Homo sapiens: one gene and its partners. The protein of the gene in region 1 interacts with the protein of each later gene in a pairwise test. Each region holds a gene or a part of one and is shown in the gene's direction. Other genes may lie near its edges.

Region 1 (7,623 bases):
TGAAATGGAGTCTCACTCACGCTGTCACCCAGGCTAGAGTGCAATGGGGTGATCTCGGATTACTGCAGCCTCCGTCTCCAAGGTTCAAGTGATTCTCCTGCCTCAGTCTCCCGAGTAGCTAGGATTACAGGCGTGTGCCACCACATCTGGCAAATTTTTGTACTTTTAGTAGAGACGGATTTTCACCATGTTGGCCAGGCTGGTCTCGAATTCCTAGCCTTAAATGATCCATCAGTCTCGGCCTCCCGAAGTATGGGGATTACAGGCGTGAATCACTGCGCCCAGCCTTGTTTTGTTTTATTTTTAGTGCATTGTCCAGGCTGGAGTGCAGTGGTGTGATCACAGCTTACTGCAGCCTTGAACTCCTGGGCTCAAGCAATCCTCCCACCTCAGCCTCCAAAAGTAGCTGAAACTACAGGCAGGCACCACCATGTCCAGCTAATGGAGGGTTTTAAGAAGATTTGATATGATCAGATTTATGTTTTAAGAAAATCCATTTGGAGGCCCATTATAGTAGCTTACGACTGTAATCCCAGCACTTACAGTGGGAGACCAAGGCAGGCAGAACACTTGTGGTCAAGAGTCCAAGATCAACCTACCCAGCATGGTGAAACCCTGTTGTTGTTGTTTTTTTCTTTTCCTTTTTTTTTTTTTTTTTGAGACAGAGTTTCGCTCTGGCTAAACTCGTTGCCCAGGCTAGAGTGCAATGACGTGATCTTGGCTCACCGCAACCTCCTCCTCCCGGGTTCAAGCGATTCTCCTGCCTCAGCTTCTTGAGTAGCTGGAATTATAGGTATGCACCACCACACCTGGCTATTTTTGTATTTTTAGTAGAGATGGGGTTTCTCCATGTCAGCCAGGCTGGTCTCGAACTCCCAACCTCAGGTGATGTGCCTGCCTCGGCTTCCCAAAGTGTTGGGATTACAGGCGTGAGCCACTGTGCCCGGCCAATGAAACCCTGTTTCTACTAAAATTACAAAAATTAGCCAGGAGTGGCGGTGCACGCCTATCATCCCAGCTACTCGGGAGGCTGAGGAACAAGAATCTCTTGAACCCGGGGGCGGTGAGTGGGCAGAGGTTGCAGTGAGCCGAGATGGAGCCACTGCACTCTAGCCTGGGTGACAGAGCCAGACTCTGACTCAAAAAAAAAAAAAAAAAAAAAAAGAGAAAAAGAAAAAAATTAAGAAAAGATAATCCATTTGGCTCTTGTGGAGAGAGCAGAATCAGGAGACTAGGAGGTAGATGACTGCTCTAGTCCAGGTTCATTGCAGAGGAGGAGGAGAGAAGGGGGCCAAATCAGTATCTCTATGGTGGGTCTGTGTGCACAATAGATGTGCTCAAATGCAGATTCCTGGGCCCCACCCTCAGAGAGTTTCTGAAACCAGCAAAATCTCGCAGAAAAGAGAACAGAAAAAAGAAAGAAATCATTAGCTTTCTTGGTCATTGGTGATTGAAAAACCAATATTACCTTCAGGAATGGCTGGATGTAGGTGCTCAAACCATTCCATCAGGAAACTCTCCATCTCTTGGCTCTGTACTCCCACATGTGGGCTTCCTTCTAGACAAGCCCTCATGTAGCAAGGTTGCCATCTAGCAGATCTCAGCTTACATTCTATGAGCTTAGCAATTCTTACAGGAAAAGAGTGAAAATTCCAAGGGCTAACTCACTGGAGCAACTTGGGTTACATACTGCCCCGGTTGCTGCACATGGAAGGAAATCTAGCCTTTGTAGGATAAAAAGGAAATAGATATTGAGAAACTGAAATACCAATGCCAATTACAGTAAATCTGGCAGAGGGGCAGAGGCAGTGGCCAACACTTTGGGAAGCTGAGGCAGGAGGATCCTTTGAACCCAAGAGTTGGAGACCAGCTTGGGCAACACAATGAAACTCGTTTCTACAAAAAACTTTTTTTTTTTTTTTTTTGAGACGGAGTCTTGCTCTGTCACCCAGGCTGGACTGCAGTGGTGCGATCTTGGATCTCTGCAACCTCTGCCTCCCAGGTTCAAGCCATTCTTCTGCCTTAGCCTCCCGAGTAGCTGGGATTACAGCCGTCTGCCAACAAGCCAGGCTAACTTTAGTATTCTTTTTTCAGAGATGGGGTTTCACCATGTTGACCAGGCTGGTCTCGAACTCCTGACCTCAAGTGATCCACCCGCCTTGGCTTCCCAAAGTGCTGGGATTTCAGGCGTGAGCTACCATGCCCAGCCTTGAACAATTTTTTAAAAATCAGCTGGGCATGGTGGCTCACATCTGTAGTCCCAGCTACTCAGGAGGCTGAAGCAGGAGGATTGCTTGAGCTGGGAGGTTGAGGATGCAGTGAGCTGTGATCTTGCCACCGCACTCTAGACTGGGCAATGGAGTAAGACCCTGTCTCAAAAAAAAAAAAAAAAAATCTAGTGAAGACCAAGAATCTGCATCTAAGGCTTCCAGCTCCAAGGTTCAGACACCAGGAGATAGAGGGCTGTGCTTCCAGATGCAGTTGATAAGTGGGTAGCCTTTGTTCCCCAACTAAACCTCACCTCTACCAACAACTGCCTGCATGACCCATCCTTTCTTTGAGTCTCCATCCCTTTGTGTATAAGATGAGCTGATGACACCAACTTTGGAGGATGGCTAAGAGGACAAGAAGAACCCAGTAGAGGACCTGGAGGGAGGGAGGCCCCTCTCAGAGCCTCAGTTTCCCTTATCTATAAAACGGGTACAACATAACATGAGAAGTTGGTGCTATGGTGCATGTCCAGAGAGAGGAATGCCTCCCTTTTTATGCGGGCCCATTTCCTGGCCTGCAGGCGGCGACTGTGCCACCCTGCTGAAGAATATTGGAGCGCTGCCCGTAGAGATGGCCCGCATGTACTTTGCTGAGACGGTGCTAGCCCTGGAGTATTTGCACAACTATGGCATCGTGCACCGCGACCTCAAGCCTGACAAGTGAGCTTTGATCTTTCCCATCACTCCCTCTGTCCCTCGGGAGGCCAGGAGGCAGAATGGACGGGCCTCATCCCTGAGATCCCCACCTGTGCCTACAGCCTCCTTATCACCTCCATGGGTCACATCAAGCTCACAGATTTCGGCCTCTCCAAGATGGGGCTCATGAGCCTCACCACCAACTTATATGAAGGCCACATCGAGAAGGACGCCCGAGAGTTCCTGGACAAACAGGTGTGTGTGCGGGCATGGGGGTCGCTGAGGGTGGAGTGACCCTGCAGGACCTCGGGAACCCAGGGCCTGGTGGGGGGCACAGCTCTCCCTTGAGGGCCCTCCTCTGGCTGGGGCGTGGGCTGACAGCCTGCCCCCAGGTGTGTGGGACCCCAGAGTACATCGCGCCCGAGGTCATCCTGCGTCAAGGCTACGGCAAGCCAGTGGACTGGTGGGCTATGGGGATCATCCTCTACGAGTTCCTGGTGGGCTGTGTGCCCTTCTTCGGAGACACACCAGAGGAGCTATTTGGACAGGTCATCAGTGGTACGTGGCTTGGCAGTGTACAGGGGCAGAGTGTGGTGTGCACGGAGAGATGGACAGGCTCAGGGTTCCAGGGATTTCAAAAGCGACCCCCCAGAGGATCGCTTGCACTCAGGAGGTCAAGGCTGCAGTGAGCCATGATCGTGCCACTGCACTCCAGCTGGGTGACACAGTGAGATCCTGTGTCCAAACAACAACAACAACAAAAACCGCCCCTAAGTTCCGTTTTGTTTTGCAGATGACATCCTGTGGCCCGAGGGGGATGAGGCCCTACCTACGGAGGCCCAACTCCTCATATCCAGCCTCCTGCAGACCAACCCTCTGGTCAGGCTTGGGGCAGGTAAGTCCGCCATGCAGAGGAGCTGAGGGCCCACTGATAGAGAGCAGGCCTCCAAAACCCCAGGCCCAGCCTGTGCTGTGGCCCCGGGGCGGAAGACATGGGGGGCGGGGCTGGGCTGCTGGGTTGGCCATCAGCTGTGGCTGGAATCCCTTCCGTCCCAGGCGGCGCTTTTGAGGTGAAGCAGCACAGTTTCTTTCGAGACCTGGACTGGACAGGGCTGCTGAGGCAGAAGGCCGAGTTCATCCCCCACCTAGAGTCGGAAGATGACACTAGCTACTTTGACAGTGAGCTGGGACACCAGGCACGACCTGGGTCGAGGGGTGGGATCCGGGAAGAGGGACCCTGGGGTAAGTAAAGCCTGGGATAGGGCCTGGCTAAGTACCAAGATGTGATGCCTAGGTGCGAAGGTGGTATTTTGGTGGGGGCGGGGCCAAGTGGGGCGGGGCTGACATACAGGCGGGGCTCAGGCTGAAATGTAGGTAAGAACCTGAGATTGGGCTAGGTGTGGGGCCTGGCCTGGGTGAGTTGTGAGTGTGGGCCTGGAACTGAACTAGAGAGAGGTACTAGCGCTCAGAATGGCCTGGGGTGATGCCAGGGTGCAGAGCACTGTAGGTGGAGCGTGGCCTCTTTGGAGGCGGGGCTAGACGGTGCCACTGAGAATGGGGCAAGGACCTTGCCTGGGAGCGGAGCCTAAATTAAATACACTAATGAGGCAGGGGCGTGGCCTGACCTGAAGACTTGTAAACCCGTCTTGAACCAGGACTGGGCTCCTGTGGGGATGTGATATGAGGAGGAACCCCGTACCCTCAGTCACAGCCCATACCCGCTCCCCAGCCCGCTCAGACAGGTATCACCACGTGAACTCCTATGACGAGGATGACACGACGGAGGAGGAGCCCGTGGAAATCCGCCAGTTCTCTTCCTGCTCTCCGCGCTTCAGCAAGGTGGGCCAAGTCTGGGTGTGGGACAGGGCGAGACCCCAGGAGGGATGGGGCTTGGAGAGACAGTGAGAAACAGGTTCCCTGGTGCCCAAGGTCTCAGGAGCGGGAAGTTATTGATGGGGCGGGAGTCTGGAAGGTGGTAAGGCCACGCAAGAGGCAGGTTCGGGAGTCTATGGGACGGGCCTTTGGCACTGAGTGGAATCTAACAGGAATCAGGACAGTTGTGCAGATTGAGGCCATGGTGGGGCGGGGCTAGGTGTGGGTGGGGCGGGGTCAGGACGTGGGAATGAGGCCAGCAGCGAAGGCGGAGTAAAGCCCAGCGAAGTCTTGCTTTTATTTATTTATTTTTATTTTTTCTAATAACGGGCAGAGAAGCCATAGGCCTTGCTTTGAGAAGCAACTTGTAGAGGCGTGCAGGGCCTAGCCTGGGCTAAGGAGACATAAATTAAGGGGGTTGCTGGGAAGATGGGGCTGTGTAGAGAGCAGATTGGTCAGGGCATCGTCGGGGCAGAGCCTAGAATAAAACGCAGTGCCTAACTTTGTGGTGTGGGGCCTGAACTGAAGAATTGTAGGTTGGGGGATCATGCACAATTGGGCGGAGCCAGGCCTCGGAGGGTGGAGTGCGTTTTGCGGGGGATCCACTGCCAGGAAGCTGATTAGCTCCGGAGTGAAAGTGGAACCCGGGCTGGACTTGCCTCCCACCACCACCTACAGGTGTATAGCAGCATGGAGCAGCTGTCGCAGCACGAGCCCAAGACCCCAGTAGCAGCTGCAGGGAGCAGCAAGCGGGAGCCGAGCACCAAGGGCCCCGAGGAGAAGGTGGCCGGCAAGCGGGAGGGGCTGGGCGGCCTGACCCTGCGTGAGAAGACCTGGAGAGGGGGCTCTCCGGAGATGTGAGCAGGGGAATGGCGGAGTTTGGGGGCGGGGTCGAAGGGGGCGTGTCTTCCATAACCACGCCCCCTCCATGCAGCAAGCGATTCTCCGCGTCCGAGGCCAGTTTCCTGGAGGGAGAGGCCAGTCCCCCTTTGGGCGCCCGCCGCCGTTTCTCGGCGCTGCTGGAGCCCAGCCGCTTCAGCGCCCCCCAAGAGGACGAGGATGAGGCCCGGCTGCGCAGGCCTCCCCGGCCCAGCTCCGACCCCGCGGGATCCCTGGATGCACGGGCCCCCAAAGAGGAGACTCAAGGGGAAGGCACCTCCAGCGCCGGGGACTCCGAGGCCAGTGAGTGCCCTATCGTGCTGCCTTCCCCAATCTTCCCCAATGTCCTACTGGTCATATAGTGAGCATCCCACGAGCCTGGTGCTGTTTATGAAAGATCTCAGGTCCTATTCACATTGCAATTTGGGATTTTTTTTTTTTTTTTTTTTTTTGAGACAGAGTCTCACTCCATCACCCAGGATGGAGTGCAGTGGCGTGATCTCGGCTCACTGCAACCTCCACCTCCCAAGTTCAAGTGGTTCTCGCACCTCAGCCTCCCGAGTAGCTGGGATTACAGGCGCGCGCCACTACCCCCGGCTAATTTTTGTATTTTTAGTAGAGACAGGGTTTCTTCATGTTGGCAAGGCTGGTCTCGAACTCCTGACCTCAAGTGATCTGCCTTCCTTGGCCTACCAAAGTGCTGGGGTTACAGTCGTGAGCCACCACACCCAGCCCAATTTGGGATTCTTAACATTAGAAACACCCCAATACCATGGTCAGTCAGTGATACAGACCGATACAGACTATGTCTCTATATGAGGAGCAGTGAGGCATGCAGGTTACCTGCTCAGATGAAACTCACCATCCATCAAGGGTAAAAAGTGGAAAGAGCATTCCAGGCAGGGAAACAGTATGTGGGAAATCCCTGGCCTTGGACTAATTCCTAACACACTTGCTTTCTGTTGCAGCTGACCGTCCACGCCCAGGTGACCTCTGCCCACCCTCGAAGGATGGGGATGCATCAGGCCCAAGGGCTACCAATGACTTGGTTCTGCGCCGGGCGCGGCACCAGCAGATGTCAGGGGATGTGGCAGTAGAGAAGAGGCCTTCTCGAACTGGGGGCAAAGTCATCAAATCAGCCTCAGCCACTGCCTTATCTGTCATGATTCCTGCAGGTAATGCTGGGCCCCACCTGGCAGGGGAGGGGCTGCCCCCCATTTGAGGCAGGACAGACCAATGAAAATGCTGCATTTTCCCTGTCCACCGTGATTGGCTCCAGGCTGGACCAATGAGAGGCTGCTCTGCCACTGCCTTGGGAGGAGGGAGGAGCAGATACAGGGAGATGTCTATCTTCTTGGTTCTGATTTCTGACCATGGTTGTGTGTCTGTAGTGGACCCACATGGAAGTTCACCCCTTGCTAGTCCCATGTCTCCACGATCTCTGTCCTCCAACCCATCCTCACGGGACTCCTCACCCAGCCGGGACTACTCACCAGCTGTCAGTGGGCTCCGCTCCCCCATCACCATCCAGCGCTCGGGCAAGAAGTATGGCTTCACACTGCGTGCCATCCGTGTCTACATGGGTGACACGGATGTCTATAGTGTCCACCACATTGTCTGGGTGAGTACTCATGGGTGGAGTCTCCATCACAGAGTGGAGGGTGGTGGGGAAAAGGCCCCTCCAGCTCAAACCAGTTAGCCTGGGTGAGACACCTCTGTGACCCTCTATGCCTCTTCCCTCTCTAAACCTGTTTCTTTTTTCTTTTACTTTTTTATTTTAGGCGGAGACTCACTGTGTCGCCAGGCCGGAGTGCAGTGGCAGGATCTCGGCTCACTGCAACCTCTGCCTCCTGAGTTCAAGCCATTCTCCTGCCTCAACCTTCTGAGTAGCTGGGACTACAGACAGGCGCGCGCCACCACGCCCAGCTAATTTTTGTATTTTTAGTAGAGACGGGGTTTCACCATG
Region 2 (7,751 bases), on another chromosome or scaffold:
TGTGTGAACTCTGAAGCTGACTATCACATCTAGTGAAATATAAGGAGGCTTCCTGACCAAGGCAAATCTTGGAGTTAGTGGGACAACACTTAAGTATGAATGAGTTTCATAGAATTGGAGAATGTTTGTGTTAGATTCTAGCCTAGACTTCCATTCAACATAAAAACCTGGTCTTTTCTATTGAAATAGAAGTAGTTGCGGCCGGGCACAGTGGCTCATGCCTGTAATCCCAGCACTTTGGGAGGCCGAGCCAGGCGGATCACCTGAGGTCAGGAGTTCGAAACCAGCCTGGTCAACATGGTGAAACCCCGTCTCTACTAAAAATACACAAGTTAGCTGGGTATGGTGGCCAGGTGCCTGTAATCCCAGCTACTTGGGAGGCTGAGGCAGGAGAATTGCTTGAACCTGGGATGCAGAGATTGCAGTGAGCCGAGATCACGCCATTGCACTCCAGCCCGGGGGACAAGAACGAGACTTCATCTCAAAAAAAAAAAAAAAAGAAGTAGTTGACAAACACATGTCAAAGATTGGTGGACAGCAAAGGAGGAGACACAGGGTGGAAAATTTGCCTTGAGACTGGCCTTGTTTGCTTTAACTTGGTAGAGTGGCATGGAAGCAACAGGCAGAAGGCATATCTGCAGTGGCAAATGGTGCTGCCTCACAGGATTTATAAAGATTTTCTTTTCTTTCTTTTTAGAGAGAGCTGAGTACAGCAGTGTGATCATAGCTCACCGCAGCCTCAAACTCCTGGGCTCAAGTGATCCTCCCGTCTCAGTCTCCTGAGTAGCTAGGTCTAAAAGTGTCTGCCACCACATTCAGCTAATTTTTTATAAAACTTTTTCTTTCTTTTTTTTTTTTTTTTTTTGTAGTGGTGGAGTTTCACTATGTTGCCCAGGCTGGTCTTCAACTCCTGGCCTTGAACTCAAGGCAGGAATCCTCCCACCTCAGCTTCCCAAAGTGCTGGGATTACAGGCAATATTTTCTTTTTTAATATTAGAGACTTCATACTAGAATTCTGTTTCTGGTTGCTTTGTCCCACGAGGTGTCACCGGGCTGTACAACATCTCTTCTGGCTGGAATAAGAAGGATAGAACACAGAATTTTCTTCTTGGAGAAATGTCTTCCTGGGTAGGTCATTTGGGGGTAACCCACTGGGAAACCGGTTTTATTCTGTACCTCCTCACCATGCCCATATGGGGGCTGAGTGCATGGGTGTGAATTGCTGGGTGGAAATCTGGTAATAAGGGTGCCACCCTGATGATGAGGACAGAGCAGGAGGCCAGCAAAGAGATGATGATAGAAATCTCTGGGCATGGGGTGGAGAAATGTAATCGCCAGTATGGAAAGGGTGGCAATAGCTGTAAAACTGGTCCCCTCCACCTTCCCCAGTGATTCCATCTCCTCCTGAGCTCTTACTCTTGCAATTGTATCCTCTCTGACACATATTTAATCTCTCATCTGTACTGGTTCCTTCCTCTCATCCTCCAGTAGACACAAATTTACCCTTTCTCCCCAAAGAGCTTCCCTAATATTTACCTCCCTCTCAACTCATTACGATGTGGCTTCTGCCCACCCTTCCCTTCCACTAAAACTGCCCTCTCTAAGGTTGCCTGTAACCCAGTTGCCAAAACCAATCTTACTTGACTTTCTGCAGCTTTTAATTCAATTCACTGTCCTCTCCTTGCCTTCCTGGGATTCCAGGACATAACTCCCCGGGTCTCCTACTTCGCTGACTGATCTTTCTATTTCTGCTGGCTCCTCTGTCTTCACCCATACTTTAAACATTATCATTTTCAGAGCTAATACTACTCCCATATGGCATCCTTATAAGAAGTTGTGAAAGGGGCCAGGCGTGGTGGCTCATGCCTTTAATTCCAGCACTTTGGGAGGCCGAGGTGGGCAGATCACGAGGTCAGGGGTTCAAGACCGGCCTGGCCAACATGGTGAAACCCCGTCTCTCCTAAAAATACAAAAATTAGCCGGGTATGGTGGTGCGTGCCTGTAATCCCAGCTACTCAGGATGCTGAGGCAGGCAAATTGCTTGAACCCAGGAGGTGGAGGTTGCAGTGAGCCGAGATTATGCCACTGCACCCCAGCCTGGGTGACAGAGTGAGACTCATCTCAAAAAAAAAAAAAAAGTAGTGAAAGGTACATCATACTCTGTGCACAGCCTGGGCCAGGGTGCATGGCTTGGCAAGCAGAGCCTGGACTGCATTTTAGTCCCTACTCACCACACTCAGCCTGGTGCCCTTGTGCCATGAACACCCTGTGCAACTGCACATTGCAGCCCAGGGCACTATCTGTGGTCTTCATCTCTTTATTGCTCTATCCTCTTTCCCTCTGTAACCCTGCTGACTTTCATTGTTCCACCTCGAACCTATGTGTCTCATCTAATCTCTAGACATCTTTTCATCTACGTCCTGAACTTCTCTTCCTGGGTGTCCTGTGGGGCATCCTAATTTTGCTATGGCCCAAACTCAGTTCAGATCTGCACACTTGCAAATATGCAAATATGCCTATTTTTCTGTATGCCCTCTCTTGGTTAATGACACCACCTTCCATCTTCTTATTCCGCTGAAAACTTCAAGATTATCAATGCCTCTTCCCTTTCCGCAATGTAAGGCTTTTGTCCTCTCCCAAGTTCACTACTGGAAGAACCTTCTAACCAGTTTCCCTATCTCCAGAGCCCCTCCCCTCCAAATTACTCTCCCCACTGCCACCAGGTTTCTTTTTTTACACAGACTTGAGCATATTTTTCCTTTGTTTCAAAACCCATTTTGTCTTCTAATTAACCATAAGATAAAGTCCAGATGCTCAGGCATTGAACATAAAACCCTTTATATCTTGGCCCAAACCTACAAAACTTTTCCAGTCCTACACCTTGCCTCTGCTCCCAAAACATGCCTTGCTCTTAGCCACATCCGATTATGATGCACCCTTTCTTGAACATGATTTTATTCACTGCGCCTTCGCTGGTGCCTTGAATGCCCTTCTCCTGTTCTTTGACTTGTAAAAATCTCATCCACTCTTCAAGATCATGCTCTCTTGTCACTTCTATTTTCAGGCACCCTTTGGCCCTAATTGACAGTGCTCTCCTCATTGCTTCTACAGTCTACAGCACTATTGGTATGCTACTACAGATAGTCTAAAAGTTGTTTTGCATCTCTTTCCTACTACATTGAGTTTCTTAACGGCAAGATTAAGCTTTGTTCGTCTCTATGTCATCAGCAGTTTGTCCAGTGCCTAGTACATGTTAGATACTGAATAAAAATTTATGACTTGAATTGGGCAGGATGCTTGAACATCATTTTGTGAAAGGACCAGTGATTTCTTTCTGTATAATTTTCAGCCTCTTCTTTTTCAGATATTGAAAGAACCTCAGAATAGGATGGTTGATGGGCCCACTTAAGATAGTTGCTATGTTATAGCCCCAATTTTTAGCCGAGTCTCTCTAGGGACATAGAAACCGTGCTTTCTCAAATGACTGATTGGTGCCTGAGTATGGATTTTTCCAGATATCAGAGTTCCTTAGAACTGCGATGATTTTCAATCTAAGAAGACCTAGATTCTAGGTTACACACACACACACTCAACCTCATCGTTTTGAATAGCAGATACAGGGTTTCAGTGTTTTTGTTTTACTCTCTGTGGGTTCTATCCCAGCATCTTACTAAGGGCTGAGATTTCAGGGCATGAAACACGGAATCAACAAAAACAAGGTTTTTACAATCTCAAAACTTTGGGAAACTGTTGAGTTATCTTGAAAGCCTAGAGGGGGAGCATCAGTTAGTTTTGTAGAGAACTCGGCGAAACAATATTGATGCATACGGCTAGCCTCTGTCATCCTCCTGAGTTAAACCCAACGGGACATGCTGGACTATACAGGAGCCACTCGTGGACTCCGTGAAGACCAGATGGGTAGTGTTCTTGAAATGAGCAGATGTCTATTTGTAGAACTCTGGTAGTAGCTTTGGAGTGGGTGGGGAAGAGCTTGGTTCCCATTCCCCCTCAAAGACAATTATTTGCTTCTGATGAGAATCCAAGCAACAAGTTGCCATTGAGAATGCAGTGATTGGTCAGCAAACGAAGCCTATAGGAAGAGCCTTCGGGTGCATTCCTTGTGACATATCGACCCGTCCTAAGCCCGACGCTTAATTATGGGACCTCTCAGCTCCTCCCTCCCGCCTCGAGCTCCCTTTTGGCTTCTCACAAGGCTTCCTGGGGACGATTCCCCGATGCTAGAGTACTGGGGGTCTGGGCCCACAGGGAACCCGTCAGCCTCCCTCCTTGGAGCGGGCCTGATCCCGGGAGGGCGCCCGCGCGGCCCGGAGGCGGGAACCTAGGGGGAGAAGGCGCCGGCGCCGCCCTGGCGCGCAGACCATCTGTGCGGTCCTGCGCGGGGGCAGGCGCGGCCTCAGCCCCCGGGCGCTGGCGGACCCAGCGCGTCAGCTAGGCCGCCCCCGTCGGCCCTCCCCCGGGCGGGGCCAGCCCCGACGGCGCTGACTCAGCAACGCGAGGGGGGAGTTTTGTCCCTCCGCGGACCCCGTTTCTCCCAGCCTCAGCCTCCCCGCCGCCGCCGCCGCCGCCGCCGCCGAGCCGGTTTCCTTTTTCCGGCGCTCCGGGTGCGAGAGACAGGTCGGGCCCCCTAGGCAGCGAGCCGCAGCGCAATCCCGGCGCTCGCCCAAGGACCCTGGAAGCTACCGTTACCCCGCCGGGCAGCGTGGGCGCCATGAGCAGCTCGGGTGAGGTGCCGCCGTCCCCCGCCGCGGTCCTCTGGAGGAGCTCCGCGGTCCCCGTGAGGCCCGGCGGCGGGGAAGGCCGGGGGCTGGGACCCTTGGCGATGGCGGGGAGGGAGCTTTCGGGGCAGGCTGGATCGGCCTGGAGGGAGACAGCTCCTTGGAGGAGGATGCCGCTTATGGGTTTCCCCGCTGCAGCGGGCACCCCAGGATGCGCTTACGAAGTTAGATTCGGGACGCGGGAGCCCCAGATCAGCCCTTTCCCCCTCTTTTTGCGTTAAAATCCTGTTTGGTCTCCCAACAGGACTGAATTCGGAGAAGGTAGCTGCTCTGATACAGAAACTGAATTCCGACCCCCAGTTCGTACTTGCCCAGAATGTCGGGACCACCCACGACCTGCTGGACATCTGTCTGAAGCGGGCCACGGTGCAGCGCGCGCAGCATGTGTTCCAGCACGCCGTGCCCCAGGAGGGCAAGCCAATCACCAACCAGAAGAGCTCAGGTGTGGGCTTCCACTTCTCCCATACGTTCCTTGACCTTCCTGACAGCGTCCCATTTTGGTGTCTTATTTAAGAGTGGTCTTAAATTCGTACTGAAAGAACTGGTCGTAAATTCGTAAAGAATGAGGCACAGGTACAGGCAGGTCTAAGAACATTACCCATGTGGTTTGTTTTGCTGTTCTGTGGCTTGTTAGTACATGCGGTTAGAGTACAAAAGTGACATGTCCATGAGTATACGTTTGAGTGTAATTGACTATATTATGTTCCAATGCTGTGTGGTTTGTAGCCCGTGTCTTGGAGATGTATGGTCTTGGTCACAAAACAGAACATGTGAAAATGTTCATATCTTTGGAGGACTCCCCAGAAATGCCCTGAAGGCCCTATACTATGAAATAGAAAAGATACAATGTAATTACATTAAAATGTCATCAGATGTTACTTTTAAATATGCTTCTTGGTTACAACTGAAGCTAATGTGCTGATGGGCTCAGTTCCCACCAGTAGATCAGTTTGTAATACAGAAAAAAGTTCTGTTCTCATGCCTTGCTGGTCAAGAAGTCTCGTTTTGCTATCTGCTTTCTAGCACCACTCTCAGAAAAAACAGGTATAGTGAAAGATTGGATATCCAGCAATCTAAATAAGGAGCACATTCTCACAACAAAATTGTACTAAACGGATTTTTTAAAGTCTTTCTATACTTAAAAACGACCCCCCAGTCTATCTATACGGACAGGAAGCACATCAGTGCTTGTTTAGAGTCGGTTAGAACTCACAAAGCACACATTTAACGTGAGTACATTTTATTGTATGTACATTATACCTGAATAAAGTTGATTTTTTAAATGTTAAGGAAAAAGTCAAGACCTTACAATAATTAATGTTTTGCTTTAGAAGAAAGTGCTTGGAGTGGTGTGGGCTCTCAGGCTACAGATGATCCAGTTAGTAATGTCACAGTGGTCCTACATAGTTTAGATTGCAGTGACCCGTTAGGGAACAGGTCAGGTCTTACACATTTTGCAGTGTCACTTTTACATACAAAAGATCCAAATAGCATGTGAGTTGTGTAGTTTATTTTCATGCAGTTTTCACATCACCAGTGCATCCAGATCCCCTCTACTAGAAATATATAGCATATAGAAGAGAGGTGACATACAGGTAAATGTAAGGTAAAGACGAACTAATAGGCACTAGTGACTTTCATAAAACACTATAGTTAACTAGAGTTTTCTTCTTGTTACAAAATTATTTTTGTTTAATGTAGAATATTTGTAAATACCAAGTAAATATTTTTCTTGTATATTTGTCAAGTTTTGTGTGTGTGTGTGTGTTTAATAGTGTTTAATATGCATTGATACCTTATACATTGTTATGTAAGCTACCTATCTTTTTCACTTACCAATATATTATAAACATATTTTCATATTAGTAAAAAGGTTATACCCAATACAAGTCAAAGTTTTTCCCTCAGAATTTTCCCTCAGAAAAGAGATAATTTCCCTGTATTTAAGACCTTAAAAGACTTTTCTAATGGCGCTCTCAGTTAATTTATTTTGAAGTAGAGTACAATTTGGAGAAGGCATTACTCTGAAAAATGGATTCTTTATTTGATACGTAAAGAGTGTTTTTGTGTTAAAGATATTAAACCTTTGCATATATATTGCTAATAATAATTACCACCTTTCTTGTTTTGTTTTTAATCTTTCTGCTCTTTCTGATTTACTCTTTCTGAATTGTCCAGATCGTGTCATGAGTTCATTGGTGGGAAATACAGTTGGAGCAGTGCAGTCTATGTGAACCCTCATAATTTCTTGATGTGCTTTCTTGTTTCAGGGCGATGCTGGATCTTTTCTTGTCTGAATGTTATGAGGCTTCCATTCATGAAAAAGTTAAATATTGAAGAATTTGAGTTTAGCCAATCTTACCTGTTTTTTTGGGACAAGGTATGGGACAGATCTGGCAAGATTCTTTTTGTATTGATATCAGCCTTGGTAGGGACTGCCTCTTCTTTTGTAGCTTTTCCAGTTATAGCCTGCCCTTTCATAATAGGTGAGACACCTTTTATTCTGACTTCCAGAGTATCAAAAGTTGACTCTTTCAAAGGCAGAACTGTTTTTGGTTGGTAGGTGGCCATTTTTTTGCAATGAAATAAGTTTACTGACTCATCTTACTGCTTGCTTGTCTATTTAAAATTTTAAATTTTATATTCAATATTCAATTCAATATATCTCCCTTTTTAACATCTTTTTAGGTTATTTGTTCTTTTCTAGGACCTAATTTCCCTCTCAAGAACTTGTCTGAAAAACAGTAAATAATTTTATTTGATTGTTTATTTGTTTATTTATTTTTTTGAGACAGTCTCACCCTGCCACCCGGGCTAGAGGGCTGTGGCACAGTCTCGGCTCACTGTAACCTCTGCCTCCTGGGTTCAAGCCATCCTCTCAACTCAGCCTCCCAAGTAGCTGGAATCACAGGCACATGCCACCATGCCCAGCTAATTTTTGTATTTTTAGTAGAG
Region 3 (8,315 bases), 4.4 Mb from region 1:
GCAGGAGGGGATCCTCAGGCCCTTGGGACCCGTCTGTCTGCCCCACTGCCCACCGCCTCACCAGGGGCCTGAAGACTGCTCTGTCCTTGATGGGGCTGTGATGTGACGGGGCAGCAGCCTCAGCTGACGTGGCTTGGGCTGGGTGTCCACTCTCCCAGAACCTGTAGGCCCCAGCTGAGGTGGTTGTCAGGATGGGGTAGGACAGGCCATCAGGAGGCCCCCTAAGCTCCCCCTTCTCAGCCAGAAGCCTTGAAACCACCACTGTGGGACCCTGGAAAAGAGTCGACTTCCCTGCCTCCCAATTCCCTCGTCCTTAAAAGGGTGTCATGATGACTGGTGAGTCCTTTGGGGTGGACGCGAGGATGAAAAGAGAGGCTGCAGGGAGAGGAGGGGCTTGGGAAATGTCTGCTGAGAACTTCACGTCCCGAGCCCATGGCTGCCTGGGACTCTCTCGACCTGGGGAGGAGGGTGGGACAGGGTGAAGGGGCCCATTTTACAGATATATAGAGAAGGTGAGGCTAGGAGGCCTCTAGCCAGCCCCAGTTCCCAGTCAGCGGCACTGATTCTGCACCATCTTGGGAGCTGCGCACGGTTACCACGAGAAGAGAAAACCCTGCCAGCAGGTCCAGAGGACACGCCCCTGTTCCCGCATTCTGCAGGTCCCTAGATCTGGCTGTAGTCCAAGCCTCTCCCCCATCTCCAGGGACAGCGCTGTGTTCTCTGTCCCCCAGGCCCCTAACCCCTCTCCAGGGTCCCGGGGGCCCCCAGGAGTCTTTGTCCCCATCAGTTTCTTTATTCGGCCACCCCCAGATCTAGGCCACGCCTCTTCCCAGTCTGTCAGTATCTTTCCAGAGAAACCTAGAGCCAACACGTCCGTCCAGGGACCTCTCCCCTACCCCATCACCCACGGAGATGGGACAGCCCTTCCTGTGTGTACAGCGGGCCCACGGCCACCACACTACCCTCTGGAGTGAACTGACTGCCGCGAGGCCTGGGGAGCTGGCTCACCACCTGTCCTCCACCGTTCACCCTGTCCACTGCAGAAACGACCTCCTACCCTCAAGCCGGCCCCCAACCCCCATGCACAGGAGCCCAGCCCTCTTGGGCCCCGGCTCCGCCCAGCAGGGGGCGCCCAGGAATCTCAGACTCGGGGGAATGAAAGCCGGGAGAGCAGTGGGGATAGCGGGCAGGTTGGCTGGAAGCCGCGGGCTCGCGCTGAACAGCTCTGAGGCCGGCCAGAGGCCCGTGCCCGGCATTTGTCCAGCCCCAGCTGTCACTTGCAGGTGCCGGTCCGGTTACCCTCATTGCGGGCCAGGAGCGGGGAGGTGGAGGGCGCCCTGCGGCCCTGGGATCCGCCGCCCACGTGCTCCCCGGGCTCCTCCCCCTGCACACCGTTGTTCGCGTTTCCGACCCCGCAGATTCCCCAAGGCGCGCCCTAACGAACTCTCACTCCCCTGGTCCGGGCTCCCTTCTCCGGGATTCCGGTAACCCTATCTGTCCCTGTCTGCAGCCGCGCCGCGCGGAACCCTGCCGGGAGCCCCTACGGAGGCGCCAAATACACAAAGGGTAGTTGGCGGGGAGGCGCACCATGACTACAGCTCCGGGACCTGCGCTTCACCCCCACGGCGCCCCCGTGGGGCCTTGGTGCGCGCGCCCTGGCTGGACCCTCCTAGCTGCGAGAGTGCACGGGTAGTGACCAGCCCAGGCACCTGGGAATCCATCAGCTGTCATCCAATCCTTTAATTACCTTGATTGAGCTCCTTACTGTGGCCAAGCATTGCTTGATTTATTTATTTACTTATTTTTATTATTTAATTTAATTTTTTTTTTTTTGAGACGGTGTCTCGCCTTGTCACCCAGGTTGGAGTGCAATGGCGCAATCTCAGCTCACTGCAACCTCCGCCTCCCGGGTTCAAGCGATTCTCCCGCCTCAGCCTCCCAGGTACCTGGGATTACAGGTGTGCACAAACAGTATTTTTAGTAGAGACAGGGTTTCATCATGTTGGCCAGGCTGCTCTCGAACTCCTGACCTCAGGTGATACGCCCGCCTGGCCTCCCAAACTTCTGGGATTACAGGCGTCAGCCACCGCGCCTGGCCACTTGTTCTTTCTTTCATTCTTTCCTTCACTTGCCAAGGTTCTGGAGACCCACAGAGAGCCCATACTGTCCTCCCGAGACTCCTTTTTGGGAGGGCAACCCACATCTGGGAACTGTGCCCCAGGACAGGATGCAAAGGCACAACAGAGATGGCAGAATCCTGATGTCTGTGCTCTTAAAGGAGGCGTGAAAACAGGCAGGCCAGGCGCAGTGACTAAGGCCTGTAATCCCAGCACTTTGGGAGGCCCACGTGGGTAGATTGCTTGAGGTCAGGAGTTTGAGACCAGCCTGGCCAATGGTGACACCCCAGCTCTGCTAAAAATCCAGAAAATTAGCCGGGCATGTTGGCAGGCACCTGTAATCCCAGCTACTTGAAGCCGGGAGGCAGCCTGGGAGACAGAGCAAGACTTTGTCTCAAAAAAAAAATTTTAAAATGTTTTAAAAATACTTGCTCGGGCCACACCCCAGACTGATTAAGTCAGAGTTTCTTGTAGGTTCTGTTTTTTGTTTTGTTTTTTTTTAGATGGAGTTTTGCTCTGTCACCCAGACTGGAGTGCAGTGGAGCCATCTCGTCTCACTGCAACCTCCGCCTCCTGGGTTCAAGCAATTCTCCTGCCTCAGCCTCCCAAGTAGCCAAGATTACAGGCATGCGCCACCACGCCGAGCTAATTTTTGTATTTTTAGTAGAGATGGGGTTTCTCCATGTTGCCCAGGCTGGTCTTGAACTCCCAACCTCAGGTGATCAACCTCAGGTGATCCACCCGACTCAGCCTCCCAAAGTGCTGGGATTACAGGCGTGAGCCACACTGCCCAACCGCCGGTTCTTTTTTTTTTTTTTTTAACTGTTCAGGCAATTCCAACATGTGCTCAAACTGAAAACCAGGGCTCTCTACTCTCTTAGCAGGTGTTTTCTCCCTTTGTCTACCGTGACGGAGATTACTGATCTCCTGTGGGCTGAGCTCTGTGGTCAGGGCTTGTCCTTATCTGGCCAGTCCTCGGCACCACAAGTGACTGCCTTCACCCCCTCTTGGCCCCTGTCTCTGTCTCCTGGTTCCTCTTCTCTCTACTACCTCTAACCTCTGGGAATCTGGTGTGTCCTCGGGTCCTCAGACCCCCTCACTCCTCCAGAACTGCAAAGCCTTTTTTTTTTTTTTTTTTTGAGATGGAGTCTCTCTCTGTCACCCAGCATGGAGTACAGTGGCGTGATCTTGACTCTGCAACCTCCGCCTTCAGGGTTCAAGTGATTCTCCCACCCCAGCCTCCCAAGCAGCTGGGACCACAGGCGTGCACCATCACACCTGGCTAATTTTATATTTTTTGTAGAGATGGAGTCTTGCTACATTGCCCAAGCTGGTCTTGAACTCCTGGGCTCAAGTGATCCTCCTGCCTCAGCCTCCCAAAGTGTTAGGATTACAGGCGTGAGCCACCGTGCGTGGCCCAGGTGCAAGGCCTTTGACACCACTCACCCACCGACCCCCAAATCTGCTGTACCAGCTAAGCTTTCTGCCCAGGGCGGCAGCCTGGGACATCCATGGCCTGTGATATCTGCCCCAGAACAAGTGAGTCCTGCTCAGAGCCGGGAATTGGATTTCATGGAAGTGTTGAAATGAGGAAGGCGGATGAGCCAACCAGGGCAGACAGCAGAGGCCTCACCCGGTCACATGGGCCCCCACGTCCTGGGCCTCTGGGCCTCCCCAGGAGCCTCCTAAACCCCAGAGCTGTCCGTACCCCTGATCTGCTGAGATCTCCCCATCCTGTGGCTCTCTAGCCCAGGAGGTCACCAGGGCCTGGCATGGAGTCCTCCCTGGAGTCCAGAGATGGGGACACCAAAGTAGTAGGAATGATGGGGACTATAGAGAGTAAGAAACTAGTTGGCCAGGCGTGGTTGCTCACGCCTGTAGTCCCAGCACTTTGGGAGGCCGAGGCGGGCAGATCATCTGAGGTTGGGAGTTTGAGACCAGCCTGACCAACATGGTGAAACCCCGTCTCTACTAAAAATACAAAAAATTAGCCGGCAGTGGTGGCACATGCATGTAATTCCAGCTACTCAGGAGACTGAGGCAGGACAATCGCTTGAACCTGGGAGGCGGAGGTTGCAGTGAGTCGAGATTGCGCCACTACACTCCAGCCTGGGCAACAAAGTGATACCCCGTCTCAAAAAAAAAAAAAAAAAAAAAAAAAAGAAAGAAACTAGTGACCATGTTAGGAACATGCGGGCAACCAGTGCCCCAAGCTTGGGACAGTAGCAGGCAGGACAGGAATTCAAGCGAAATAGAAGTGCCCAGCAGGGGCCGGGGCAGTGGCTCACACCTGTAATCCCAGCACTTTGGTAGGCCGAGGCGGACCGATCCCTTGAGGTCAGGAGTTTGAGACCAGCCTGCCCAACATGGTGAAACCCCTTCTCTACTAAAGATACGAAAAGTAGCCAGGAGCGGTGGTGCGCGCCTGTAATCCCAGCTACTCAGGAGGTTGATGCAAAAGAATTGCCTGAACCCGGGAGGCAGAGGTTGCAGTGAGCCGAGATGGCACCATGGCACTCCAGCCTGGGCGACAGAGCAAGACTCAGTCTCAAAAAAAAAGAAGTGGCTGGCAGGATCTGGAGACGGACTGGAGCCTCCCCACCTCCTTCCCTTCCTCCTCTGCCCTCCCCCGCCCCACCTCTAGCAGCCCCCACCCTGTGTGCTGACCGTGGAGCAGAAGCCACAGTCACTTCCTGAAGGCAGCGGCCCCAGCTCGGGTCCCACTCATCCCATGGCCCATCACCTGCCTGCAGCCATGGTGAGTGCTGGAAGAGGCCTGTGCCTCACTGGCTGGGAAGCAAGGGACACAGATGTTCCCAGAAGGATAGGATCCACCTGTGGAGGGGCGGGCGGGGGGGCGGGGGGTGGCTGCGAAAGACATCTGGGAAACGGGAAGGGTCGGCAAAAAGGACCCGAGGTAGGCGGCCACCAGGCACACCCCAGGACAGCGCGGGCTCCTGGGGGTTCACGCTCAGGTTGGGACTGCGAGGGGGACAGATGGGACTCCCCGGGGGGACAACTCCCGTCTCCCCAGGTCAACATGAGCAGCCATGTGGGAACGGGCTGCTGGGGTGAGAGCAGTGCTTTCCTGCGGGGTGACAAAGTGGGTCATGACCCTCCCCCGTCCAGTCACCCAAGTTGTGACCTGCTAACCCTGACTTATCTAGCCCTGTGGTCGCCCGGGAGCACTTCCTTCAAACCACTCGGGGCTTTGACAGGGGCACTTCAGGCCCCAGGTGGGAATTGCTGCCTTTCCAAGGAGCAATCCTGGTCTCTGGTCCTCTGGATGGGGAAAGTGAGGCACACGCAGGAAGCAAAGGCCACACGTTTCTGCCCTTTCCCTCCCCCAATCTCCTTGACCACAGGTGAAAGGGGCGTTTGTAGGACTAAGGAGGCCTGGCCTTCTTGTGAATCTGCCTACCTCTGTGAGGAGTGGTTGCAGGGCCAGCTAGGAGGGCAGCTGGGACAGCTGGGTATGCAGGAGACAGCGCCTGTGCCCACGGTGTCTGCACCAATCCTCTCAGGCACTGTCAACTGTGAGCATTCCTGACCATCAGCCCGCATGTCAGAGACGGTGTGAGAGGGACCGCATGGCCGTCTCCAGGCATCTCTGTGTTTTCCTGATGGTCAGGCTGAGTACATGGCTGTCTTTGTGCTGCCTGAATATTGTTTATTTCAGCAAATATTTACTGAGCACCTACCATGTTCCAGGCCCTGGGAAGACAGCAATGAATGAGCCAAGTCTCTGCCTTGCAGAGGCTGAGGAACTGAGGGAAGTTGTGGTGTAGAGAGACAAAAAAAAAAAAAAAAAAAAATCAAGACACATTAAAAACAATGTAAAATAGTATAATACGTAGGGGTGGGTACGATGGAGAAAATCATGCATGCTGAATGCAGGGCAGTAGTGGGATGGGGTGATCCATTTAAAATAGGGTGGTCTAGGCCAGGCGTGATGGCTCATGCACTTTGGGAGGCCGAGGTGGGTGGATCACTTGAGGTCAGGAGTTCGAGACCAGCCTGGCCAACATGGTAAAACCCTGTTTCCATTAAAAATACAAAAAAAATTAGCCAGGCGTCGTGGCAGACACCTGTGATCCCAGCTACTCAGGAGGCTGAGAATCGCTTGAACCCAGGAGGCGGAGGTTGCAGTATGGCGAGATTCCACCACTGCATTCCAACCTGGGTGACAGAGTGAGACTCCGTCTCAAAAAAAAAAAAAAAAAAGAAAGAAAGAAAAATAGGGTGGTCTAGGTTGGGCACGGTGGCTCACACCTGTAATCCCAGCACTTTGGGAGGCTGAGGCGGGTGGAGGGTGGATCACCTGAGGTCGTGAGTTTGAGACCAGCCTGGCCAACGTGGTGAAACCCTGTCTCTAGTTAAAATACAAAAATTAGCCAGGTGTGGTGGCGAGTGCCTGTAATCCCAGCTACTTGGGCGGCTGAGGCACGAGAATCATTTGAACCTGGGAAGTGGAGATTGCAGTGAGCCGAGATCGCGCCATTGCACTCCAGTCTGGGTGACAGAGCAAGACTCCATCTCAAAAAATAAAAATAAACAAATAGGGTGGCCTTGGATGGCCTCTCTAATAAGAAAATATGAGAACAGAGGCTGGGAGGAGGAAAAGGAGAGACCCAGGTGGTGCAGAGACATGTCCTGGGTCAGGGACAGGGCAGAGGCCCCGAGGTCGGAGGGAAGTGTTCAGGGTGCAGGGAGGAGAAGGTGGCTGGGTAGGGAGGCTGGTTCGCCCAGGCTTTTATGAGGCATTTAGCTTGAACTGTGGGGACATGAGGAAGCATTGCCGAGTTTTGAGCAGAGGGACACAAACAGACTCAGGGTTCAACAGGCTTCTCCCTCCAGCTGCCATGGGGGGAACTGACCAGGGAAGGGGGTAGGCAGAGGCCCAGGGAAGGGCTTGTTAGAGTAATCCAGGCAATTGGTTGGGGGAGGGCAGACACTGCCTCCCACTACCTCCTGGGGTGACAGTGGTGAAGGCAGTGAGAAGTGGTTGGATTCCGGATGTGTTTTGAAATTAGCACAGAAGGGACTGGGGGCCTGGGCGCGGCGGCTCAAGCCTGTAATCCCAGCTACTGGGGAGGCCGAGGTCGGGGGAATCATTGGAGCCCAGGAGTTGCAAGCTGCAGTGAGCTATGATTGCACCACTGCTCTCCAGCCTGGGCAATGGAACGAGACTGGAGACATGCAGTGGGAGGGGTGAAAGAATGAGGGGGTCAAGGATGCTGGGGGGGTGGGGTACCACCCATGGGGGGAGGGCAGTGGGACTGGAGGCTGCAGGAGGGATGTCGGGATCTCCAGTGCTGCTAGAGGAGGTTGGGTGTGGAATCAGCACTAAATGGAGAAGTAGGGAGGGGTGTCGGTCCCAGGATCCTAGGATCCATGGGGGCTCCTGGGAAAGAGCTGAGGGCTGACCGGGCCTGGGCGCAGGGGTGGTGGTTGTGGGCTGTGCCTGAGGGTCCCCAGGCCCATCCTTCCATGCCCCTTCTGTGTGTTTGAGCCCCTGCCTCATTGGCTCTGCGTCTCCTAGGAGAGCCATCAGGACTTCCGGAGCATCAAAGCAAAGTTCCAGGCCTCTCAGCCGGAGCCCAGCGACCTGCCCAAAAAACCTCCGAAGCCTGAGTTTGGTAAACTGAAGAAGTTCTCCCAGCCTGAGCTAAGCGAGCACCCCAAGAAGGCCCCGCTGCCTGAGTTTGGTGCAGTGTCCTTGAAGCCCCCGCCGCCTGAGGTCACTGACCTCCCCAAGAAGCCCCCGCCGCCTGAGGTCACTGACCTCCCCAAGAAGCCCCCGCCGCCTGAGGTCACTGACCTCCCCAAGAAGCCCCCGCCGCCTGAGGTCACTGACCTCCCCAAGAAGCCGTCCAAACTGGAGTTGAGTGACCTCTCCAAGAAGTTCCCACAGCTGGGGGCCACTCCGTTTCCAAGGAAGCCCCTGCAGCCTGAGGTCGGTGAGGCCCCTTTGAAGGCCTCGCTGCCGGAGCCTGGTGCGCCGGCCCGGAAACCCCTGCAGCCCGACGAACTCAGTCACCCCGCCAGACCCCCCTCCGAACCCAAATCCGGCGCATTCCCCAGGAAGCTCTGGCAACCCGAGGCCGGTGAGGCTACCCCGAGGTCCCCGCAGCCTGAGTTGAGTACCTTTCCCAAGAAGCCTGCGCAGCCTGAGTTCAACGTGTACCCCAAAAAGCC
Region 4 (7,914 bases), on another chromosome or scaffold:
TTCTCAACTTGAATTTTAAATCTTAGGCCCTACAGCTCAGACCTAAGCCTCTTTTCCAAACCACCCCTAATCCCATGGCTTTAAACACCGTCGATATGCAGAGGCTCCTAAGTTTATATCCCCAGAACTCTCTCTTCTGAAATCCAAAACCTGTCTATCCAATTGCCCCCCGCTTTTTTTTTTTTTTTCCTGTCACCCAGGCTGGAGTGCAGTGGTACAATCACAGCTCACTGCAGTCTCAAACTCCTGGGCTCCAGCGATCCTCCCACCTCAGCCTCCAGAGTAACTGGGACTACAAGTGTGTGCCACCCACACCCTGCTAATGTTTTAATTTTTTGTAGAGATGGGGTCTCACTATGTTGCCCAGGCTGCTCTTGAACTCCTGGGTTCAAGTGATCCTCCTCCAGTCTCAGCTTCCCAAAGTGCTGAGATTACAGGAATGAGCCACCGTGCCTAGTCCAATTGCCTATTTGATATATTAATGTGGACCTGTAATGGTTGAACTTAACATGTTCAAAATGGAGCTTAGATTCATGCCTTTCCAGTCTTTCCCATCTCAGTAAATGACACCAACATCCATCTAGTTGCTCAGGTCGAAATTTAGAAGTCTCCATTTCTTCCTCTCCTTCATTCTCCCTCCACCCCCATTTAATCAATCACCAATTCTACCACCAAAGGTACACCACCTCTCTCTCTCTGATGCTGTTTCCTAGCCCAAGCCACTATTGCTACTCACCTAAATTACTCCTTCCTATTTGTCCATCTGAAGTAGCTCCTCCTTGATGCAGTTGGCAGGTTTCTTCCCTTAATAGCCCTTACCACAAACTGTGAGTTCCTATGTGTGTACTGAATTTGTTATTGTCTGGTTCTCCAAACAGAATGTAAAATCTGTGAGGGCAGGGCCCTATCTCATTCATTCCGCAAATATTCATCATAGGTCTACTAAGCACTGTTACTGTTGTAGGTGTTGGGGGTGGGTGGAGAGAGGTGTGGTATGGTGAGAAAGTGTATAGCAGTTATGTGGCAAGAACCACTCTTCAAATTTGAGGGACACAGAAATGGGGCAAACCTTCCCTATGAGACTGGACTATGGAAAGTAGGAGAAATTGTGGCTGCTGACTTGCTGGCAGTGATTAAGGCAAAGAGGAAAATGTCATGAGACTAAGGACATCAGCCAGAATGACAGCCCCCAAATCTCCTGTCAACCTATAAGGAAGAAGCTGAGGCAAAATGAATACAAGTAGAGAGTTTATTATAAGCTTGAGGATTGCAACGAAAGAGCATAGATTCAAGTTGCCCTAAATAGACACTCTGATTAGCAGCAGTTACAAGTGGATTTTTATAGGGAAAGAAGAGGCAGTTCCTGAGTTATTTACCAACAGTTTACATTAAAATAACATAAGCTATTGATTGGCTATACATTGTTAAACTATAGGGTGTGTGTTAGAATGTCCAGTACAACATTATTAGGTTAATTTATAGCTACTTGTGGCAAGAGCAAGCAGTGTCAAGAGATGAATACATAGCTCAAAGGAGGGAGGCATAGGATGTGATTCTGTCATTTTCTTTTCTTTTTTTTTTTTTTTGAGACTGAGTCTCACTCTGTTGCCCTGGCTGGAGGGCAGTGGCACGATCTTGGCTCACTGCAACCTCTGCCTCCCAGGTTCAAGTGATTCTCCTGCCTCAGCCTCCCAAATAGCTGGGATTACAGGCGCGCACCACCATGCCCAGCTATTGTTTGTAGTTTTAGTAGAGACGGAGTTTCAACATGATGGCCAGGCTATTCTTGAACTCCTGACTTTCTGCCCGCCTTGGCCTCTCAAAGTGCTGGGATTACAGGCGTGAGCCACTGAGCCCGGCTGATTCTGTCATTTTAATGCCTCGCTGGGCCTATTTATTTATTTTTAATTTTTAAAGATTTATTTATTTTTTAATTTTTTTTTTTTTAGAGGCAGGGTCTTGTTCTGTGGCTCAGGCTGGAGTGCAGTGGTGAGATCCTAGCACTACAGGTGCACACCACTACGCCTGGCTTTTTTTTTTTTTTTTTTTTTTTGTTTTTTTTTTGAGATGGAGTTTAGCTTTTGTTGCCCAGGTTGGAGTGCAATGGCACGATCTCGGCTCACGCAACCCGGGTTCAAGTGATTCTCCTGCCTCAGCCTCCCGAGTAGCTGGGATTACAGGCATCTGCCACCATGCCCAGCTAATTTTGTATTTTTAGTAGAAACGGGGTTTCTCCATGTTGGTCAGGCTGGTCTCGAACTCCCGACCTCAGGTGATCCATCTGCCTCGGCCTCCCAAAGTGCTGGGATTACAGGTGTGAGCCACCACGCCCGGCCTATTTTTATTTTTTTATAAAGACTGGGTCTGGCAATATTGCCCAGGCTGGTTGCAAACACCAACACTGCGCCCAGCCATCTGGGCCTGATAATTTAAAAGGACTCTCATTCCTCAGATAAAAGTTCTTTTCGGCCAGGTGAGGTGGCACGTGTCTGTAATCCCAGCACTTTGGGAGGCTGAGACTGGAGGATCACCTGAGCCCAAGAGTTTGAGACCAGCTTGGGCAAGATGTTGAGACCCCCGTCTCTACCAAAAATGAACAAATTAAAAGAGTGTGGTGGCGGGCACTCGCCTATAGTCCCAGCTACTCGGGATGGCTAAGGCGGGAAGATCCCTTGAGAGCCCAGGAATTCGATACTTAAGCTATGATTGCACTAGCCTGCGTGGCAAAATGAGACCTCTTCTCTTACAAAAAAAAAAAAAAAAAAAAAATTGTGTTCTCAACCCCAACGGACCACAATATCCAGTAAAGCTGCTATGGCCCCTAACTCTCAGCACAGGAGGTCCCTTAAGAAAATGCTTGTCCGGCCGGGCGCGGTGGCTCACACCTGTAATCCCAGCACTTTGGGAGGCCGAGGCAGGTGGATCACCTGAGGTCAGGAGTTCAAGACTAGCCTAGTCAACGTGGCGAAACCCCGTCTCTATTAAAAACACAAAATTAGCCGGGTGTGGTGGCGGGTGCCTGTAGTCTCAGCTACTCGAGAGGTTGAGGCAGGAGAATAGCCTGAGCCCAGGAGGTGAAGGCTGCAGTGAGCCGAGATTGCGCCACTGCGCTCCTGCGCTCCAGCCTGGGCGACAGAGTGAAACTCTGTCTCAAAAAAAAAAAAAAAGTTTGCTCCTAACCCCCATCTCAACAATCCAGGACTGAAAAGAAGAGGGACCATGAAAGTCCCTGAAACTACAAGTTGGGCTACGGCTAAAGAAGGTAAATATCAGACTGAAGTGTAAGATGGACATTACTAAGTCTTAATCATCATTTCATGTTTATACCTCACAGGTTGAGATAGATTTCTCAAGCATCATAAATGTAAAGTGCATTAGGGTAGGTCTACAAGAGAGCTCTGAGAACATACAGCAAGGAGACCCAAACCCATCTAGGGCTCAGGGAAGGCTTCCCAAGGAAGCGATGCCCATGCCGAGGCCGAAGGGATCTCATGCCCCACTGCACACACCGCGCGCTCCCCATTCCCAAACAAGGCAGGCTTTTCATGCCTCCCTACCTTTGGACTCTGTTGTTCGTTCCACTTTCCTGGAGTGCTGTCTTCCCTCCCCTTCTGCTCAGTCAGGCTAACTTCACATCCTTTATAATCCAGCTGAAAAGTGAAGCCATGCCCACGGCCTCTCCCCAAAGGAGGAGTGAGTATCACCTGTTCTGAGCTCCGAAGTTCTTGGGGACACCTTGTGGGAACTGCGTGTGTGGTGGCTTGTCTCCACCACCGTACTGTGAGCTCATAGTGTTCTAGAGCCCAGCACGAGGCAAGCTCTATAGATGTCTACTGAATGAAGGAATGAACGAATGATTACATTTTAAATGGGATTAGGGGAAAATGATTCAAGGCAGAGGGGTGAGCTGAGCTCCTTGGAATGGTGTCTTTACCGAACCAAGCCTGGGTTAGGCAGATGTAATGAGCCCACCTATTACAAGAATCTCCATAGAAAGTAGGTCAGTTCTTTCCTATCTCTTTAAGAACGAGAGGCCGCGGCTCCGCGCCTGCGCACTGAGAGAATAAACACCTCTCCTTTTCACCTTCCCCCCTTCTCCCTATTGCCCCAACCGGCGGCAGCCTCCTCCCATACTCCCCTCCTTCGGGGCGGGTAATGGTCCGTCCGTCCCAGGGTGCCAGGCTTGTTTCGGAGGGTGGCAAGCAGAAATGGTACATTCCACTGCCTTCATTACCTTCTGCTTTTCGCGTCTCCTGTTCTATTTCCCCCTACCTAAAGAAGCTTAATAGGCTAGCCCCAAAGAAGGCGGGGGAGCCGGGCGGAGGGGACCGGTCTGAGCCGGTCTGCAGCGCAAGCGCAGTGCGGATAAACAGGAAGCGGGCGGTGGAGGCAGCAGCAGAGGGAGAGCTCGGGGCTTGGAGGGGAAACAGCGGAAGACCTAAGATTATCGGGAGGGCAGCAGAGGCAGAGAACGAGGACAGGACCCTTGGCCGTCTTCTTCCAGGGAACGAGAGGTCACAGCCTCGCTCTCCGCTTAGGCTTCTGGCGCCCCAGCTTAAAGCCGAGGCTGCGGCTGACAAAGGGCTCGCGCCGGTGCCGCCGCCCTTCTCATCCGGGCATTCGGGTCCCTGCGGAGAGGGAGGGGGAAGGGCAGAGGGGGAGGGGAAGGAGCCGGAGGGGCGCACACTTGGAGCTGAAGCCCTCTCCAGGGCTCCGGGCCGGTGCCCCAACGGACAGAGGTCGAGGAGGACCCGCAGAGGTGGCAGCGGCCGGGGGCAGGAGGATGGTGCAGAAGGAGAGTCAAGCGACGTTGGAGGAGCGGGAGAGCGAGCTCAGCTCCAACCCTGCCGCCTCTGCGGGGGCATCGCTGGAGCCGCCGGCAGCTCCGGCACCCGGAGAAGACAACCCCGCCGGGGCTGGGGGAGCGGCGGTGGCCGGGGCTGCAGGAGGGGCTCGGCGGTTCCTCTGCGGTGTGGTGGAAGGTGAGCGCCCTCCTTCCCTCCCCGTTTTGGCACTAACACGTTCTGTCCTCGGGAGGAGGGTGGTGGCGGGGATTTTGGAGACTCTAAAAGGCCGGAAAGCCTCTGGGTCTGAAATGTGGCCCTCCTAAAGCGAGGGGAGAGACGAGATGTTGGGCGAATCTCCTTGCACGTCTTAAGACGGCGTCGAATTCCCCCCTGGCCACTCACAAGTCTGACCCCACCCGTCTTGGGCTTGGAGCCAGGCCACCTCCTAAGGAGGCGGTGGTTAAGAGCCTGGTGTTCTGTTAGCCTCTGAGTTCTACTTCTTTGTACCTTGGGATCTTATTCCCTAGGGTTGTCTGGTTCCAGTGAAAAAATATGTGTAGTGCTTCTGTCACCACCCTTTGTGGAAAATCGGCCCACACTGACGTGCTTGTACTTCTGGAGTGAAGAGAAGCACGTTTGGCCTATAGTATTTCAAGTTCCACTTGGCTTAGAATATTTTTGTTGCTTCCCCCCACCCCCGCAAAGATTCATTTGCAACTTAGAAAATTGCCCTCTTTCCCAGCTACTGTACTTTGCTCTCGAGGGATGAAACTTTGGCTTTAATCACAGATTCTCGAAGTATCTGAGATGCGTAATTGGAATTTAGTGACCGCAGAAGCGGCTTTAAAAATGCCCTTCTCGCCTTTTTTCCCATTTACAGTCGAAAAGAACGATGGACTTTTTGGTAGTGAGGGAAAATTACCAGATGCTTGTTTCAGTTTCTGGATGAGAATGGACAGATAGTCCACCTTGCAGCTCTGTAGAGGCACGAATCGGTTACATTATTAGTCTTTCCGCAGTTACAGCATGTATTTGAATTTTCTGAAGTATTTTGGCCGATTCAGAGTTTCCTAGATGTCTGTTTTATATCTCTCTCGTATGTAATGGCGTGGATAAGGGTAAAAAATATATATATTTAAAAAACCAAAAAGGTATGGAAAAAGGATTGCTCTCGACGTTGAGAACATCAGCTTTTCTGTTTTTTTTCACCATATAAATTAGAGTATTCTTTCGAAAAATGGGTGGTGGTTATGGTACAGACCATAACAGGCTACTTTGCTGCTACAGTAAGGCATGAAAGAGTTCAGCGAAGTTAACTGTCTTGCAGAATTTGGGGGATTACAGAATGGAAAACTGCTATATAGTATTCATCAAAAATGATTGCATTGTGTGACTTATATCGTTGTATTTATTGGCTTGAGTGCAGGGAGATTTTAGAAAAAGAATCTGGTTTTTGTTATCAAAGATCTTGGAGTGGGGATGAGAGAGTGCTGGGAAATTTCGGAGCTAGACTGGAATGAGTCTAAGGAAACTTGCCAGTCCATTATACCTTCAGTTATAAAAGGAGAAAACTCATTTGGTTTAAATTCGTTTGTTTAGAATAGCATTAAAAGGCGATTCTTCCTATTTAAAGAACAGAGTTGTCTGCCATTCTCTCGTTTATTCCTCCTCCCTCCCGTGCCCTTGTATATTTTCTTAGTGACTGAGCACCTGAGCCAGCACTGATTTTTTGTGTGTTTTGTTGTTTTTGTTTTGGGAGACGGAGTCTCGCTCTGTCGCCCAGGCTGGAGTGCAGTGGCGTGATCGCGGCTCACTGCAACCTCCGCCTCCCGGGTTCGAGCAATTCTCCTCCCTCACCCTCCCAAGTAGCTGGGACTGCAGACACGGGCCCGGCTAATTTTTTGTATTTTAGTAGAAACGGGTTTCACCGTGTTGCCCAGGCAGGTTTCCACCTACGGAGCTCAGGCAGTCCGCCCGCCTCGGTCTTCCAAAGTGCTAAGATTACAGGCGTGAACTACCGCGCCTGGCTTTTTTTTTTTTTTTTTTTTTTTTTTTCTCTCTTTTTGATACCTCTTGGTTGGCACCAGCCGTAAAATGAATGAGCATAGAAATACTATAGTTACTGCTAGGATTTCTTTTTTGTTTTCTTTCCATCACAAAACTCTCTTGGTTTTTAACTTACATTAACAGCATTGCTTCCTCTTTGTGGTGCCAGTCAACCGAAACCATGAACCTGACTCTCAAAAGAGCCAAGGTAGGGTTTCTAAAGATTAAAATGTTTAATTAAGCTAGACATTTGAAAAGTCTTTTTTTATATTGGAGCAACTCTGAAAGGATGTTTAATGCCTACTCCTTAAAAAAAAAATGATAATGCTAAGTGCCGTAGGGATGCTAAAGACTTGTATAGGTCTGCCTGATCAAGAATATTTTATATTGGCCGGGCGCGGTGGCTCACGCCTGTAATCCCAGCACTTTGGGAGGCCGAGGCGGGCGGATCACGAGGTCAGGAGATCGATACTAGCCTGGCCAACATGGCGAAACCCTGTCTCTACTAAAAATAGAAAAAATTAGCCGGGCGTGGTGGCGGGCTCCTGTAATCCCAACTACTCGGGAGGCTGAGACAGGAGAATCGCTTGAACCCGGGAGTTGGAGGCGTAGATTGCATTGAGCCGAGATAGTGCCACTGCACTCCAGCCTGGGCGACAGAGTGAGATTCCGCCTGAGAAAAAAAAAAAAGAATATTTTGTATCACTTGTGAGAGGCTAACATTAGATTGTCCAGATGAAAGTGCTACAGTTATACATTGGTATGTAATGAATTTTAATTTGGTCTGTCATTGTCCTTTTTGTGGTGCAGAGGAGTCATTCTGCCTAGAGATTGGAGCTAAAATACATTGCAGAAATTTGTTTTAGACTAGTCTCTTATGTAGATTGTGTGGGTTTATGTAGAACATTTTGTGTTCAGAATGCTTTTATTAACCTTCTTCATGGTACTCTTGAGAGGCTGTCCTTATCTCTTACTGATGATTAGACTGAGACAAGTGGAAAGTAAAGGTTAGACAAGATGTAAAGTGTGTGGTTTGAGCTGTGATGAGCACACTAGGGAGTTCCAGATACCAGTTTGATGC

The links.
Region 2: the proteins of MAST1 (region 1) and BLMH interact in a two-hybrid assay, tested with the Homo sapiens proteins (one study listed by BioGRID and IntAct).
Region 3: the proteins of MAST1 (region 1) and PRAM1 interact in a two-hybrid assay, tested with the Homo sapiens proteins (one study listed by BioGRID and IntAct).
Region 4: the proteins of MAST1 (region 1) and OGA interact in a two-hybrid assay, tested with the Homo sapiens proteins (one study listed by BioGRID and IntAct).

What each region holds. Positions count from the first base shown.
Region 1 is NC_000019.10:12,862,018-12,869,640, forward strand, and holds part of MAST1 (microtubule-associated serine/threonine-protein kinase 1), read left to right. Parts: intron 1-2,791; coding exon 2,792-2,930; intron 2,931-3,028; coding exon 3,029-3,161; intron 3,162-3,298; coding exon 3,299-3,464; intron 3,465-3,699; coding exon 3,700-3,801; intron 3,802-3,962; coding exon 3,963-4,085; intron 4,086-4,635; coding exon 4,636-4,745; intron 4,746-5,456; coding exon 5,457-5,635; intron 5,636-5,712; coding exon 5,713-5,960; intron 5,961-6,625; coding exon 6,626-6,832; intron 6,833-7,048; coding exon 7,049-7,278; intron 7,279-7,623. UniProt on the Homo sapiens protein: Microtubule-associated protein essential for correct brain development. Appears to link the dystrophin/utrophin network with microtubule filaments via the syntrophins. Phosphorylation of DMD or UTRN may modulate their affinities for associated proteins.
Region 2 is NC_000017.11:30,288,798-30,296,548, reverse strand, and holds the start of BLMH (bleomycin hydrolase), read left to right. Parts: upstream 1-4,604; 5' UTR 4,605-4,729; coding exon 4,730-4,742; intron 4,743-5,040; coding exon 5,041-5,238; intron 5,239-7,066; coding exon 7,067-7,176; intron 7,177-7,751. UniProt on the Homo sapiens protein: The normal physiological role of BLM hydrolase is unknown, but it catalyzes the inactivation of the antitumor drug BLM (a glycopeptide) by hydrolyzing the carboxamide bond of its B-aminoalaninamide moiety thus protecting normal and malignant cells from BLM toxicity.
Region 3 is NC_000019.10:8,499,125-8,507,439, reverse strand, and holds the start of PRAM1 (PML-RARA-regulated adapter molecule 1), read left to right. Parts: upstream 1-4,799; 5' UTR 4,800-4,848; coding exon 4,849-4,875; intron 4,876-7,238; exon of another isoform or gene 7,239-7,295; coding exon of another isoform or gene 7,296-7,328; intron 7,329-7,659; coding exon 7,660-8,315. UniProt on the Homo sapiens protein: May be involved in myeloid differentiation. May be involved in integrin signaling in neutrophils. Binds to PtdIns(4)P.
Region 4 is NC_000010.11:101,814,892-101,822,805, reverse strand, and holds the start of OGA (protein O-GlcNAcase), read left to right. Parts: upstream 1-4,361; 5' UTR 4,362-4,783; coding exon 4,784-4,982; intron 4,983-6,853; exon of another isoform or gene 6,854-7,041; intron 7,042-7,914.